2 linked regions of the Homo sapiens genome follow. The protein of the gene in region 1 purifies or fractionates together with the protein of each later gene. This does not show direct contact. Each region holds a gene or a part of one and is shown on either strand. Other genes may lie near its edges.

Region 1 (4,410 bases):
CTTTGCAGAAATTGGCAAGCTGATCCTAAACTGCATATGGAAATTCAAGGGGCCCAAAACAATCTTGAAAAACAAGAAACAAGTTGAAGGACTCACATTTTTCATATTTCAAAACTAACAGTAATCAAGCCAGTGTGGTACTAGCATAAGGAGAGACATCTATAGATCAATGAAATAGGATTGAGTGTACAGAAATAAACCCTTATATTTATGGTCAATTATTTTTAAACATTGGTATTGAATCAGTTCAATGAACAAATAATAGTCATTTCAACAAATGATGCTGGGACAAGTAGACAACCACATGCAAAAGAATGAACTTGGACCCTGACCTCGCCATATAACAAATTAACTCAAAATGGATCTAAGACCTAAATATAAGAGCTAAACTATAGCACCTTTAGGAAAAAACATATAGGTAGGTCTTTGTGACCTTGATTAGGCAACATTTTCTTAGATATGTTATCAAAAGCATAAGCAGCAACAAAAAAAGTAGATTAGAGTTCTTCAAAATTCAGAACTTTTATGCTTCAATGGACACCATCAACAAAGTAAAAAGGTAGCCTATGAAACGGAAGAAAATATTTGCAAATCATATATGTAAGGGATCTGTATCTAGAAAAAAGAACACTTGTAACTCGATCATAAAAAGAGCACAGTTTTTAAAAGAGCAAAGCATCTGAATAGATATTTTTCTAAAGATATACAAATGTCCAACTGGTATAAAGATATGCAAATGTAGAGAAATTGGAGCCTTCTAACACTGTTGGTGGTAATATAAAATGGTGCAGCCTCTTTGAAAAACTGTTTGGCAGTTCCTCACAGGTTAAACATAGAATTACCATATGACCCAGAAATTCCACTCCTAGGTATATGACCAAGAAAGATAAAAATATGTCCATACAAAAACTTGCACGTGAGCTGGGCACAGTGGCTTCCACCTGTAATCTCAACTACTCAGAAGGCTGTGGCAGAAGGATCGCTTCAGCCCAAGAGTTCAAGACCAGCCTGGGCAAAACAGGGAGACCCCATCTCTAAATAAACAAAGAAAAAACCGGTACACAAGTGTTCACAGCAGCATGATTATTATTTTAGAAACAGGGTCTTGCTCTGTCACCCAGGTTGAAGTGCAGTGGTAGGATCATAGTTCATTGTAAACATGGCTCAAGCAATACTTCTGCCTCAGCTTCCCGAGTGGTTGGGATGACAGGCATATGCCACCATAGCAGCTATTTACTTATTTATTTGTTTTGAAGAGACAGGGTTCCACTAGGTTGCCCAGGTTGGTCTCAAATGCCTGGCCTGATCCTCCTGCCTTGGCCTCTCAAGGCACTAGGATTACAGACACGAACCATCATGCTGGGCCATAGAAGCATTATTTATAATATAATAGCCCAAATAATGGAAGCAATCACAATGTCCATTAGGTGATGAATGCAGAAACACCAAGTGGTACATCCATACAATGGAATATTATTCAGCCCTAAAAGGAGTGGAGTACTGATACAACATGAAGGAACCTTGAAAAGAATGTGCTAACTGAAACATGCCAGACACAAAAGGTCAGATATTACATGATTCCATTTATATGAAATGTCTAAAATAGGCAAATCCATAGAGGCAGAGAGTGGACTACTGGTTGGCCTAGCTGGGAGGGTTGGGAAGAAATGGGGATAATTACAAATGGGTATGAGGTTTCTTTTTAGGGTGATAAAAATGTTCTAAAATGGGTTGTGGTGATGGTTGTACAACACTGTAAATATACTAAAAACCACTGAATTGTGTAGTATGTGAATTATATGACAGTAAAGCTGTTACAAAAAAGAAAGAGAACAAGACTAGAAGACTACTACCAACAACTATCACTATCATTTTAGGTAAGAATGGATTACTTAACACTAAACAAGAGCAGTAAGAACAGGAAATTAAGGCAGTTCATTCATTTGAATAAATTTATCTTTAGTGAAAAAATCATCTCATTAGTTTTATTTCTCTTTTTATCACAGACAAATATTTTGAAATTACTAATATATTTCACTAAGGTCTCTGACAATTTCAATTCTATGATTCTAAAATTCCTGTGATATCTCCCTAAAGCAGTGATTAGTCCAGCCCCCTGCAGGGTTCCACAGCTCCATGGGTCTCATGGCCCAGTTTTAAAGAATTCTCCACCCCTTATTACTACTCTCTTCTTTATGCCTCTTTTCACTATGCTCATTACCTTTCATTTCTTCCTTAGGGTGATTCTGGAGGGCCTCTGTCGTGTCACATTGATGGTGTATGGATCCAGACAGGAGTAGTAAGCTGGGGATTAGAATGTGGTAAATCTCTTCCTGGAGTCTACACCAATGTAATCTACTACCAAAAATGGATTAATGCCACTATTTCAAGAGCCAACAATCTAGACTTCTCTGACTTCTTGTTCCCTATTGTCCTACTCTCTCTGGCTCTCCTGCGTCCCTCCTGTGCCTTTGGACCTAACACTATACACAGAGTAGGCACTGTAGCTGAAGCTGTTGCTTGCATACAGGGCTGGGAAGAGAATGCATGGAGATTTAGTCCCAGGGGCAGATAACTCACAGGAGAGCCACTGCTAACCCTGGGTGACTTTATTTACAATTTGAAATGATTTTGTTTTTAAGGTTTTTGATTTTGGAAGTTTTGGGGTTGGAATGTGAAGAGTTAAGAAATAAAACTGTCACTTCTGTACATTCTTTGTCCTTGACTAATGCATCTTCCAAGACAGGAAGGATGTCCTCTATGAATAAGCATTTGTAGACACAAATTAAATAGCTATAAGACTAATGTGTCTTCCAAGGCAGGAAGATGTCCTCTATGAATAAGTATTTGTAGACACAAATTAAATAGCTACTACAGAGGCAGGCAAGTATCTGTGATGACACAGGAAAATATAATAAGGGTCTACCTCGTGCCCATGGGTTGCATCATGGGATTTTAGTCTATTATTTCTCACCTTCTCTATTATCTTTAACTTCCCTTCTAACCCTCCCTTTACTCCTCAACTGTAACAAGAGGGCTAATAAAAAATTCATATAAAGCCAATTCCAAGCACACTGCCTACAGATTAGCTAGCCCTGTTCCATAAGGAGCAGTAAAAAAAGAAGAAAAAAAAAGAGATGCAAACATGGGTCAGGCATGTTGGCTCACACCTGTAATCCCAACACTTTGGGAGGCCAAGGATCACTTGTGGCCAGGGGATGAAGACCAGCCTGGGCAACACAGCCCCTGTCTCTACAAAAGAAATAAGAAATTAGCCAAGAATGGTGGCATGTGCCTGTGGTCTCAGCTACTTGGGAAGCTGTGGTGGAAGGATAGCTTGAGACCAGGAGTTCGAGGCTGCAGTGAGCTATGATCACATCACTGCACTCCAGACTGGGCAACAGAGCAAGACCCTGTCTTTAAAAAAAAAAAAGGAAAAGAAAAGAAGGAAGGAAATGCATATATGTAGTTCAGCCCTATATTTTTCTTAAGTTTTTACTTTTTAAAATACCAGTGTGACCTACTACGAACAATGGATTAATGCTATGATCTCAAGAGCTGAGGTCTTGGGTTTCAACAATCTGGACCTATCTAAGTGGTTTAACTTCACATCTATAAAAAAACACTTTAAATATTTGGAACAAAGGACATTATAGAAAAGAGCATTATATCCCATGCTTCCTTTGTTAAACAATCACACAACCTATCCTATTCCCTTCTATACCTAGGCTGCCAGAAACTCAGAGCTAACTTTTGAACTCAATTACAATCATTATCTTCACCACAGATTTTCTGGTATAATTCCATTCATACTTCTTTAAGTCATCCTTTATTTCTCATTTAAATGAACTTAAGTTTTATTGCATCTGTGTCTTTTACAAGATACGGATCCTTTTATAAAAAAAACTTTGTTTCTGAAAGTTGACTTAAAGTAAGTACATTTTGGCTTACTTTAAGCTTTAAGCTACAGGTGGCTCACACCTGTAATCCCAGCACTTTGGGAGGCCAAGGAGGGTGGATCACTTAAGGTCAGGAGTTCAAGACCAGCCTGACCAACATGGTGAAACCCTGTCTCTACCAAAAATACAAAAATTAGCCAGGCATGGTGGCGGGTGCCTGTAATCCCAGCTACTCAGGAGGCTGAGGCAGGAGAATCACTTGAACTCAGGAGTTGGAGGTTGCAGTGAGCCAAGATCCCATCACTGCACTCCAGCCTGGGCGAGAGAGCCAGACTCTGTCTCAAAATAAAATAAAATAAAATATAAAGTACATTTAATGGAAATACATTTAATAGAAAATAAGGGTAGACTGGCCGGGTGTGGTGGCTCACGCCTGTAATCCCAGCACTTTGGGAGGCCGAGGCGGGCAGATCACGAGGTCAGGAGATCAAGACCATCCTGGCTAACACGG
Region 2 (3,500 bases), on another chromosome or scaffold:
TGCTTCCTTGCCATTATCTGTATTATTCTTTTCAAGGAAATATCTCTTCATTACTTTCCCATTCTCTAATTGGATTATTTTGTTACTGTTGAGTTTTGAGAATTCTTTGTATATTTTAATAGGTATGGGTCCTTTGTCAGATACATGGTTTGTAAATATTTTCTCTCAGAATGTCATTCATATTTTTATCCTCAGCAGGATTTTTCACTAAGGAAAAGCTATAAACTTGGATAAAGTCCAATTTATTCCTTTTTTTTCTTTTATGGATCATGCTTTTGCTGTATTGTCTAAGAACTTTTTACTTAACTGTAGGTCCCAAATATTTTCTCCTTTGTTATCTGGAAAAATGTTACAGCTTTACATTTAAAGCTATGATCTATTTGAATTTTTTATATAAGGTGTGAGGTTGACACCAGAGTTTATTGTTTTGCTTATGGATGTCCAGTTGCTCCAGCATCACTTCTTGAAAGGCACTCCTTTCTCCATTGAATTGCTTTTGTACCTTTCTAAATTTCTTTTTTTTTTTTTTTTTTTTTTTTTGAGACAGGGTCTCGCTCTGTTGCCCAGGCTGGAGTGCAGTGGCACCATCTGGGCTGACTGCAAGCTCCGCCTCCCGGGTTCACACCATTCTCCTGCCTCAGCCTCCAGAGTAGCTGGGACTACAGGCACCCGCCACCACACCCAGCTAATTTTTTGTATTTTTAGTAGAGACGGGGTTTCACCATGTTAGCCAGGGTGGTCTCGATCTCCTGACCTCGTGATCCGCCTGCCTCGGCCTCCCAAAGTGCTGGGATTACGAGCATGAGCCACCTCTATACAGCTTTTATAATTGTTACCAACTGACACAATATTGATATACTAAAGACGAACAGTTACGTGTCTTTTGTGGTATCATTTCATACATTCTTACAAGTAGCATTTCTCAACCTGGAATTTCTCCATCAGAATCATTTGGGGAGGTTATCTAAACTACCTGATGGCTTCAGGTATTATGGTTCAATAAATTTGGGATATGCCTAGAAACGTGTCTTTTTAAAAAAGCCTCTATGATAATTTTGACATCCATTGTTGAGAACCACTGCTGTAATGAAACTTAAATTTTGGTTTTCATTTCATTATTCGTCAATGGTTTGAAATGATCTTTTAGTCAAGTCTTATGGTAATTTTGGTTCTTGAAGGCTCCCCAGTATGAGCCACTTTGGCTAATTAGAATTAATCTAGTTTTAAAATACATATCACATAATAACTTTTTGCTGAATAATCCTTTGTGAATTTTAACTCACTTGCTATGTATTTTAGTCATTTACAGGTGGAGGATACAGATTGGGTAGTTCTTTTTGTAAGCGGTCTGAATATATCTATGGAGAAAATCAGCTGCAAGATGTAGGTACAATAATCAAAATGAAAAAGTATAAATATTTGCTTCTAGTTACTAAAACTGTTGGTTTTAAAATTAAGAATTGATAATACAAATATATTTTTGTTACTTTTTAAAACATGGGTTAAAAGGACCAATGATGTGTGAGTTTTCAGTCTCGATCTTTATGTTTTGTATCACAATTATGCCTTGCACTTAGAGATATGGAACTATTTGTTGAAAGAATGTGTGATTCATTTTCCAAATGAATTTGCAGCCAGGCGTGGTGACATGCATCTGGAGTCCCAACTACTCCAGAGGCTGAGGTAGGAGGATCACTTGAGCCCAGAAGTTCAAGGCCAGCCCGGAAAACATAGCCAGACCCTATCTCTTTAAAAAAAAAAAAAAAAAAAAGGTGTTTAAAAAAATGAACTTGGGCCAGGCACAGTGGCTCACGCCTATAATCCTAGCACTTTGGGAGACTGAGGTGGGCAGATTGTTTGAGCCCAGGAGTTCGAGACCACCCTGGGCAACATAGTAAGACCCTGGATCTTTAAGATAAAAAAATCAATTAAAAAAAGAAAAATGAACAAATATATAGTTATTATTATAAATGGTATATTTTCATAATCTAAAATGAGGTGAGGTGTAAATGAAGAACACCTAAAGTCATTCTTTGTTTCTGTTGCCTTTTGAAATTTTGGAGTTTTAATTTTATTTTAGACATTGATAGTTTCTTGGAAGGTCACTGGAAATTCTGTTCCCCTTAGGATGAATATTTAAGCTCTGTAGCAAAGAAGAGTATGGGTGCAGATGAAGGAAAATGAAGGAAGTGGGAATCATGGAGTACAGCTCTTCTCATTGCTTTCATTTTCTTGTGAACCATCCACCAATAATTGTACTTCGAGGCCAGGGTCCACCTGCAGGACCTTTGGTATTTGCAGCCATTGTCAGTTTGTTAAGCTGAATGCAAACTAGCTAAACAAACACATGTGGTTTCATTAATGTCTTTCACTATGAATAAAGAATAGTAGAAATAACTCCCTATTTTAAATTAAGTAAATACGTTTTAGGATATCACATTTGGAACTTAAAATTATTTGGGGGAGATATATTCTTATGTATATGTGAATATATATATATATATATATATTTTTTTTTTTTCTATACCCAAAAGGTTCAGATTTTGCTTAAACTGTGGAGCAATGGTTTCAGTTTAGATGATGGAGAATTGAGACCTTACAATGAACCAACAAATGCTCAATTTCTGGAGTCTGTTAAGAGAGGGTAAGATGTATTATTTGTATTCTATTTGTTATGTAGAGTGGGACTTATTTTCTTAACAGACTACTCATTATTAGTGCACTACGGGTTTTCAAGAAGTAGTTCCTGGAATATATTAAATAAATGGTTGCTGGGGGTGTAGGTATTCTTAAGTTTATAAAGGATATACTGCTATCTGTATGTAAGTCACTGGTTCTTAATTTTGTGGGCCAGGGGCATTGGACATTGGCCCATTTTAAAATCTGATGAAACTATGAACCCAGCTCCAAGAAGAAACATCTTAATGTGATAATCAGTGAATTAATTAGTATGTAGCTGCCCACCCACTAAGCCACTGTCCTGCTTACTGTTGACAGGGTGACTCTCATTGCATGTATGCCTGAAATTCAGCAACTTATGTTAGAAATCTTTTAATGTGGCATTACTGCTGGCAGAAGATTTCAAAAGGTTAGTTTGAAGTTATAATTTGTGAAAGTAAACTCAGATATTCAGTGCTCTCACCCATCCAAAGAACATTGTAACTTACCAGCTCTTCTTGCTAAAGGATGAGGAATCAAGTGATTTTGCTATGATAATAAAAGCTTTTCTGTGTTATGATTAAACTAGCTGAAAGTGGAGTTATTTCTAAGTAGATATGCAACTAAAGACATAAAGTTGAGCATAAACTGGGGAATTAAGTTGTAGGAAAGGATCAGAGTTTTACTGTATATAACCAGAGTTATATATACAGGGTTATACTCCATAAAGGAATAGAAGGTGGAACATTTCCAAATGTTGAAATATGTCCAGGATGAGTGGCTGACATGGAGTGGAGGTTAAATTCGTCTTTTAGAAGACTAATTAGCATGAATTTTGAATT

The links. The genes of interacting proteins can lie anywhere in the genome.
Region 2: the proteins of PRSS48 (region 1) and UBXN2B purify together in Homo sapiens (affinity purification with mass spectrometry; one large-scale study listed by BioGRID and IntAct). This does not show direct contact.

The regions. Positions count from the first base shown.
Region 1 is NC_000004.12:151,288,879-151,293,288, forward strand, and holds the end of PRSS48 (serine protease 48 isoform 1 precursor), read left to right. Parts: intron 1-2,239; coding exon 2,240-2,575; 3' UTR 2,576-2,984; downstream 2,985-4,410.
Region 2 is NC_000008.11:58,431,861-58,435,360, forward strand, and holds part of UBXN2B (UBX domain-containing protein 2B), read left to right. Parts: intron 1-1,299; coding exon 1,300-1,383; intron 1,384-2,534; coding exon 2,535-2,644; intron 2,645-2,997; coding exon of another isoform or gene 2,998-3,055; exon of another isoform or gene 3,056-3,243; intron 3,244-3,500. UniProt on the Homo sapiens protein: Adapter protein required for Golgi and endoplasmic reticulum biogenesis. Involved in Golgi and endoplasmic reticulum maintenance during interphase and in their reassembly at the end of mitosis.